Linked DNA regions of Homo sapiens. The protein of the gene in region 2 interacts with the protein of the main gene of each other region in a pairwise test. Each region holds a gene or a part of one and is shown on either strand. Other genes may lie near its edges. The genes, in order: MYOC and ECE1.

Region 1 (3,813 bases), about 150 Mb from region 2:
ACAGAGTGAGACCCTGTCTTAAAAAAAAAAAAAATTAAAAAAAGAAAGACTCATAAGCCAAAATGTATATGTAACTGAGGACATCCTCAATGTGCATTCCAAACTCCAGGGGCAATTGGGAGTACCCCCCGGGACATGGCAGGCCTTCATTATTCCTAGCCTCAAATCCACAGAGCTATTTATCCATCCTTTTAGTCACATCATTGGAGCACCTATTGAGTGCAAGGCTGTGCTAGGTGCTCAAGAAAAAAAGGTGTCTAAGACACAAGTTTGTCTAATAGGCTAGTCTATGTTTAAAAAAAAAAAAAAAAAGACACAATCAGTCCATGCCCTTAAGGAAATCATAATCTGGCAAAGTCCTCATACCCGAGAAGGAAAATGGGTTTATTCCAGGCTGCTGCGGAAACCAGTTTCTTGGACAATCTGAATGGCTCCTGGAGAGTCCTGGAAACTTTTATTTCATTCCCTGCGTCTCCTTCTCCCTATCTGAGGTTGTGCAGGGGTGAGGAAACCCCTTTGTTCTTCATTCTAAAGGTTGCATTGGCCTAGGAGGGTATCCAGGGCAGGGACTGATTCACTAGGTCAAATGGAGTTTCCTTAGATCGACCTGAGACCAGTACCAGCTGCTTCCCTTCTCCCCCTGTGCAGGCAACACACACCTCCGGCAGGGACTTGGTGCTGCCTATGGGGGAGAGGGACAGGGTGCCCGAGGTTCCCTGTTCTTCTGTGCTGCCAGGGAGAGGTAAGAGAGAGTGACCGCCTTCCTGTACACAGGTGGCAGAACCATCTGTAACCTTCCTCTCTGATGCTGCCTCGCCGATTGCCATGCCTTCTCTCTTAGGCCCAGAACACACACCCAGGCTGTTAGGAGCAGCCCACCGCTCCCTGGCCCTGCCAGCCTCCTGCAATGTGCAGAGGCTCATTCGATGTGGCAAAGTCTTGCCAGGACAATTTTTCAAAATCAGGGCATTAAGCAAGTTCCTTGAATTGAGCTGGTTTCCTTTCATCTGTACCTCTTCTTGGATCACTGCAGACTCTGCCTCAGGACAACTCAAATTTCTTTTCTTTCATTGTCTCAACTCTCAGAATATAAGAGTTGCTGGGCATGGTGGCTCACGCCTGTAATTCCAGCACTTTGGGAGGCTGAGGTGGGTGGATCATGAGGTCAGGAGTTCGAGACCAGCCTGACCAACATGCTGAAACCCTGTCTCTACTAAAAATACAAAAATTAGCCGGGCATAGTGGCACATGCCTGTAATCTCAGCAACTAGGGAGGCTAAGTCAGGAGAATCGTTTGAACCTGGGAGGCAAAGGTTGCAGTGAGCTGAGATTGTGCCATTGGACTCCAGCCTGGGTGACAGAGAGACTCTGTCTCAAAAAAAAAAAAAAAAAAAAAAAAAGGAGTTGGTTTCAGGCAATGTGAGGAGAGAGAAATACTGCATGCCATCTGTACACAAAGTCTGGAGGACTGCCCCAACCTTGTCCCTACACTTCAGCTATGCCATCCACAGTTGCCATGGGAGGGTCCCTTAATAAATGTGTCAATACTAAAATTTCTCTGGAATGTTTCAAAATCACTAACATTTCATTCTGAATGTGGAAGAAAACCAAAAAGAGATTATGAAAATATTAAGGGCTATATTGTGACAGATCGTTAACATTTTTAGGGCTTTTTTTTTTAGGTTTTTAAAAAAATATTAAATTCAGGCGAGCCATCCCTCCCCTGCATCTGGCCCCTTTACACATACAAAATGATGTATTTTATGCTGGTTATTTAATTTAACAACTTACCGAGAAAAGATGTATACTAAGAAAAGTAGGGGTACCTACCTACCAGTCAGTGGGGAGAAAATTAAGAAAGAAATGCCCCTTTTGCTATAGAGGGAAGGAAGAAAGTGAAACCCAAAAAAGTCAGGCATTTTCACAGATGACTTCCTTGTGGATAGCTAAAGTATGTACTGGCTTTGCAACTCTAAAAAACAGCTTTTTTTTTTTTTTTTTTTGTGAAACAAGATGGTTTGTCGGCATTTATAGCTCTTTGCCCATTTCAAGTAATTTTTATGTAATTTTTAAATGTGATCTGGTGCCTTCAAAGTTTCAGAGAAATAGAGAAAGGCTTTAGGACTGCAGATAGCGCCTGATAAAGTTGAACTATCGCTACTACTTATTAAGTGTCTCTTATGAGCCAGTACTGTGCTGGGTGCTTGCTACTCACTACTTTCAAATAATGGTCCTGAAAGTGAACATTAATATCCCCTTTTGCAAATGAGGAAACCGAGGTTCAGAGAGGTTAAGTAACATGCCCAAGGTCACACAGCTAAGTGGTATCGCTGGGACTTGAACCCATGTCTTCCGAGGCCATGGCAGCTGCGAACTCTTCCATCCTGTGCTGAGGAGGTGTGTCAGTTATAAACGCATTGCCTCTCAGAGCTGAATGCACCCTCCCATGTATGCTGTCTGAAGAACAAGAGCTTTGAAGTGAGCGCGATGTTGAACTATCTCAGTAGAGGGCGCTGGAGGGACATCGTGGGAGGAAAAAGGTCTGCAGTTTTCCTGTCCTGCGTCCATAGGTGGTATGACTGTGAGGACATTTGTTGGAGTCCTACCCCAGCCACGGACCCAGAGCGAAGTTCTTCTGTGACCTCACAGCCACAGCCTGGCCATAACCTTTCCACAGCCCTCCCAACAAGGAACCCAGAGTCCCTGCACACGGACCTCAGTGCTCTGGAGGCCTCCTGCCTGTGCCTGCCCTGACTCCCACCATGCCCTTGCCACACGTTGCAGGTTGCCCTCCTCACCTGCACTGGGAGGCGGCCTATTGCAGCTGCAGACCAGCTGAGGCCTGCACACCTTAGCCACCTTCTCTGCAAGCTGATGTGCTGAACCTCACCTTCCCCTTCCAAGCTTGTCCGGCACCCTCCCTCAGCCCTAGGTGCCTATGGAGTTCACGTCTATCTATAGTTGCTCTTTCATCACGGTTAGTAATTCTTTAAAGTAAACTTCCCCAGCTTAACCCACTGTGTGATTTCTATCTCCCGACTGGACCCAGATGGCTACTGGAGGCTTCAGAAGAGTCTCAAAGATGCTGCTCAGCACTTTGTGGGGTGACCCACTCCTGGGGCTGAGCTCAGGTCCCAGTGGGTTGCCTTGTAAACTCTCAGCTCCTGGGCTGTGCACTCAATCCTCTTATCAGTTCTTCTACCCTCACTGGCAAAGAAGAGGCAGCAAAAGTGCCTGGCTGGTGCCAAGTTCCCTGCTGAATCCCACCATGGCCCTTACGGCTCTGAGCAAGGAGCCCTTCAGATTGTGCCTTGCAGGAACCACTCCTTATGTGCATTAGCTGGAATAAACATGAACTGCAATAAAACAAAATGTCAGGGAATGGCTTCCAGGATGACGGCAAGGCCAGTTCCCATTTGGCAGGGGCGATGGTTAAGTTATGAGCCTGCTGGCTTCTTCTAGGTCATGTCAGCCAGGAGCATCTGGCAATGGTCAGACTCCAGGAATAGAGCCATCTGGCATGCGGGTGGAAGCCCAGAATAGAGGATGCAAAACCCAAAGGCAGGGAAACAATCTCGTAAAGGGGCCTGGACCTAAGCCGGAAGTCATAGCTCCTAGTTCAGCTCTGCCATGTCCCAGCTGTGTGACTTTGGGTAAATGACTCCACCTCTCTGAGCCCCAGTATGCTGAGCTGAATTGTTTGGATGATTACATAAGTAACTATAAATGAAATGGCCCTCAATAAAGATGTGTCAACACTAAAATTTCTCTGGAATGTTTTAAAATCACTAACATTTCATTGTGAATGTGGAG
Region 2 (3,813 bases):
ACATGGTCCAGCTGGGGAAGCTGCTGGGCGGCGGGGACGAGGAGGCCATCCGGCCCCAGATGCAGCAGATCTTGGACTTTGAGACGGCACTGGCCAACATCACCATCCCACAGGAGAAGCGCCGTGATGAGGAGCTCATCTACCACAAAGTGACGGCAGCCGAGCTGCAGGTAACTTGAGCGCCGGCTGCTAGGGAGGCTGGGATGGCCTCCAGGTTTCAGACAGGGCCCTGGACTGGGGGCTTTTATACTCATTTCATCTAGTCCTTGAAACTATGTGACAAAGGAAGGATGGTTGTTATGCCCAGTCCACAGATGGAAAAACTGATGCTCAGAAAGGTCAAGTTACCTGCTGAAGGGCACACAGCTAGTAAGTGACTCCAAAATAGGCGCCTGGCCGACACCAGGCTGCTTCTCTGTAATTAATAGTGTTTACTTGGAGGCTCGGGGTCATGACCACACCAGCTTACATTGACAGCGCCTTTCCAGTCTCTCCAGCACCAAGCACATCGAACTTGGTTACAGTGAGCACTTAATAAATGCATGGTGTGGATTCTGTCATTACTTTTCCCTTTTCTGAGCCAGATCAAGGTCCGGAGGCTCCTAAGTGGCAGAGGAGCCAGCCGCAGATGGGCTCACTGTACAACAGGGCGTTAGATCTGTGATGCTCTCTGTCACCCATTGGAGAAGCCCAACGTCCAAGGGCTCAGCCTCTGCCAAAGGCTGCCCTCTGGTGGCTGCTTGGTTCTTGAGGGTCCAGAGAGAATAGCTTGCTGGTTCCTTCTTTCCAGAGCATCAGCTGGCATTGCAGAGGGATCAGCAGAATGGCCACCACCGATCTTGCCGTTTCTTGACATCACCCAGGAATGCGTGGCCAGGCCTTGCTTCTCTGCTGAGGAGGGGCTCCCGCAGAGTGTCATCTCCCTCCTTCCTTACCTTGTGACCAGCCGAATTTGACCTGTTGTCCGTTCCTTCTACTTTCAGGAAGAACACTAGGTCCCTGCCCTTTACCCTCCTCCAGCTGACAGGTGTATATGGGTCCGTCTTGGGACCTTGCGCTTCATGTGCTTCCTGGCTAGTGGGGGACACCAGCTAGAAACAACCCTGTCTCATTGCTGAGTGCTTTGGGCAAAAGCAGCGGGCCCTGGGAGCCAGGGGTGGGGAGAAGTCAGGGAAGGTGAGTCTAACGATAGATGAGCATTTCCAGGCCAACTGGGTGTCCCAGGCGGAGATGCAGGCCGTGCTAGGGCCCACGATCAGGGTCAGGGGAGCCTGGCCTCCTGCTGGTGCTGGCTGCCCTTCAGCTCCCAGAGAAACTGGCCTGAGGCTCAGTGGTGCTGCTCAGACCAGGATGGAGATCAACAGCTGCTGTTAGATACCATCTGGCACTCTTTTCCTGCTCTGAGGCCAGGAGGCTGAGGGTGATGTTGTTTGTGCATTATAATTTGGTTTGTTCCAGCCGATTTCTCAGCCTGAGGGGCCCCCGCAGTGCCTCAGCCCCCTACCGTGGCCATGATGCCAACTGTCTGTGCCAGGAATAGCGGAGAAGGCACAGGAGCCCTGAGCACATCAGCCCAGCATGGCCACCAGGTTCCCCCCAGGCATCCTATCACCACTGCTTCTGCTCTCTTCTTCCAAGCAGAGGAAGAAAGGCTTTTCCTGCCTCCCAGCTGCACAGCTGCCAAGGTGGGGGGAGTTTAGCAGACTCAGCAGCTTGTAGTACACAAGCCCTGGGCTTAGATTCAGAGGACTGTAAGCCCCTTGGAGCTCTAAGTGCTGGGATTATAAGCATGAGCCACCACGCCTGGCCAAACAGCCTCTGTGTTCTAAGTACCCAAAGTTCAATTAAGATCTTTAGGAAATATATGGATTCTCTCGAGTTTTTACAGATATTTCTGATTAAATTCTAATGTGAATTTGGCTGCCTTCCTTGTAAAATGGGCTTGGCTCGTTCACTCACCCCAGCTGTGTGCCAGAACACAAATGAGACATAGCCCTTGCCCTCACAAGGGACTGTGGTTCCTCTTTTTTTTTTTTTTTTTTTTTTTTGAGACAAAGTCTTGCTCTGTCGCCCAGGATGGAGTGCAGTGGCATGATCTCAGCTTACTGCAACCTCTGCCTCCCAGGTTCAAGCGATTCTCCTGCCTCAGCCTCCTGAGTAGCTGGAATTACAGGCAGGCACCACCACGCCCGGCTAATTTTTGTATTTTTAGTAGAGTCGGGGTTTCACCATGTTGGTCAGGCTGGTCTCGAACTCCTGACCTCATAATCCACCCGCCTCGGCGTCCCAAAGTGCTGGGATTACAGGCATGAGCCACCGCACCTGGCCTGTGGTTCTTTTTTTTTTTTTAATTTGAGACAGAGTCTCGCGCTCTCGCCCAGGCTGGAGTGCAGTGGCGCCATCTCGGCTCTCTGCAAGCTCCACCTCCTGGGTTCACGCCATTCTCCCACCTCAGCCTCCCGAGTAGCTGGGACTACAGGCACCCGCCACCACGCCCGGCTAATTTTTTTGTATTTTTAGTAGAGACCGGGTTTCACCGTGTTAGCCAGGATGGTCTCGATCTCCTGTCTTCGTGAGTTGCCCGCCTCGGCCTCCCAGAGTGTTGGGATTACAGGCGTGAGCCACCGCGCCCGGCCTGTGGTTCTTAACTTTAAGTCACAGAGTCCTTTGAGAACAGATCAAAAACCATGGACTATCTCCCAGAATAAATGGGTATATATGCATATTTTTAAAATTATGTCTGACATTTAAAGACGTCCTGGCCGGGCATGGTGGCTCAGGCCTGTAATTCCAGCACTTTGGGAGGCCGAGGCAGGTGGATCACCTGAGGTCAGGAGTTCAAGACCAGCCTGACCAATATGGTAAAACCCCGTCTCTACTAAAAATACAAAAATTAGCCGGGTGTGGTGGTGTGCGCCGGTTGTCCCAGCTACTCGGTAGGCTGAGGCAGGAGAATCACTTGAACCCAGGAGGCGGAGGTTGCATTGAGCCAAGATCACACCACTGCACTCCAGCTTGGGTGACAGAGCGAGACTCCGTCTCAAAAAAATAAAATAAAATAAAATAAAATAAAATAAAATAATAAAGAAGTCCTGGCCCCCTGAAGCCTGTGTTCTAAGTAAGAATCTCTTCCTGGCCTGCCACACAGGGTTGTTGGAGAATAAGTTGAGGTAAAGGATGAGAGTTCATTCAGTAAACTCATTTGCACAACCCAGTACAAGCATAACATATTATATTCATCATTATTGTTACTATTCCTTTGTTATTAGCGATGTCACCCAGGAACCCAGCACTAAATCAATTTGATTCATTCTACTCTGGGACAGAGAATGTCTTGTTCCCTGGTGTCTGGAAATGGGGTTTTCTTCCCATACTCCAGGTAACTTAGGGAAAAGCACGCCAGGTTTCACAGTGTGGTTCTAGGCTAGCCCTGCTGGGGTACAGAATGCTTCCAGGCTAGTCCCCAGCAGAGTCTGAACTCAGAGCTGTGAATCAGACACTCTTCCATTACTTCTGGGGGCCTGAGGACCTTCCCCTTCCTTTCTAGGACCCTCACGCCAAAGGCTGTTTGGGCCTGAGCCCCATTTTCTACCCCATTTCTCCAGCTGAGATGAAGCTCAGAAGCATTCTTCTCTTCTCTCCCAGTTTCAAACCTATTTGAATTGGTTGGTTTGTGACCCACAGTACTCCTTGGCTGCAGGTGTGGAAAATGGAGCTCACTGGTGTGCCCCAGAGGGTGTGAGTCACAAGTGGAATGTCCTAGTCAGTTAAAACAGCCGTCTCCATGGAGATGGAGCTAGGCACATGTGTTTA

Evidence for each region.
Region 1: the proteins of ECE1 (region 2) and MYOC interact in a two-hybrid assay, tested with the Homo sapiens proteins (one study listed by BioGRID).

The regions. Positions count from the first base shown.
Region 1 is NC_000001.11:171,642,594-171,646,406, forward strand, and holds part of MYOC (myocilin precursor), read right to left. Parts: intron 1-3,813. UniProt on the Homo sapiens protein: Secreted glycoprotein regulating the activation of different signaling pathways in adjacent cells to control different processes including cell adhesion, cell-matrix adhesion, cytoskeleton organization and cell migration.
Region 2 is NC_000001.11:21,252,304-21,256,116, reverse strand, and holds part of ECE1 (endothelin-converting enzyme 1), read left to right. Parts: coding exon 1-170; intron 171-3,813. UniProt on the Homo sapiens protein: Converts big endothelin-1 to endothelin-1.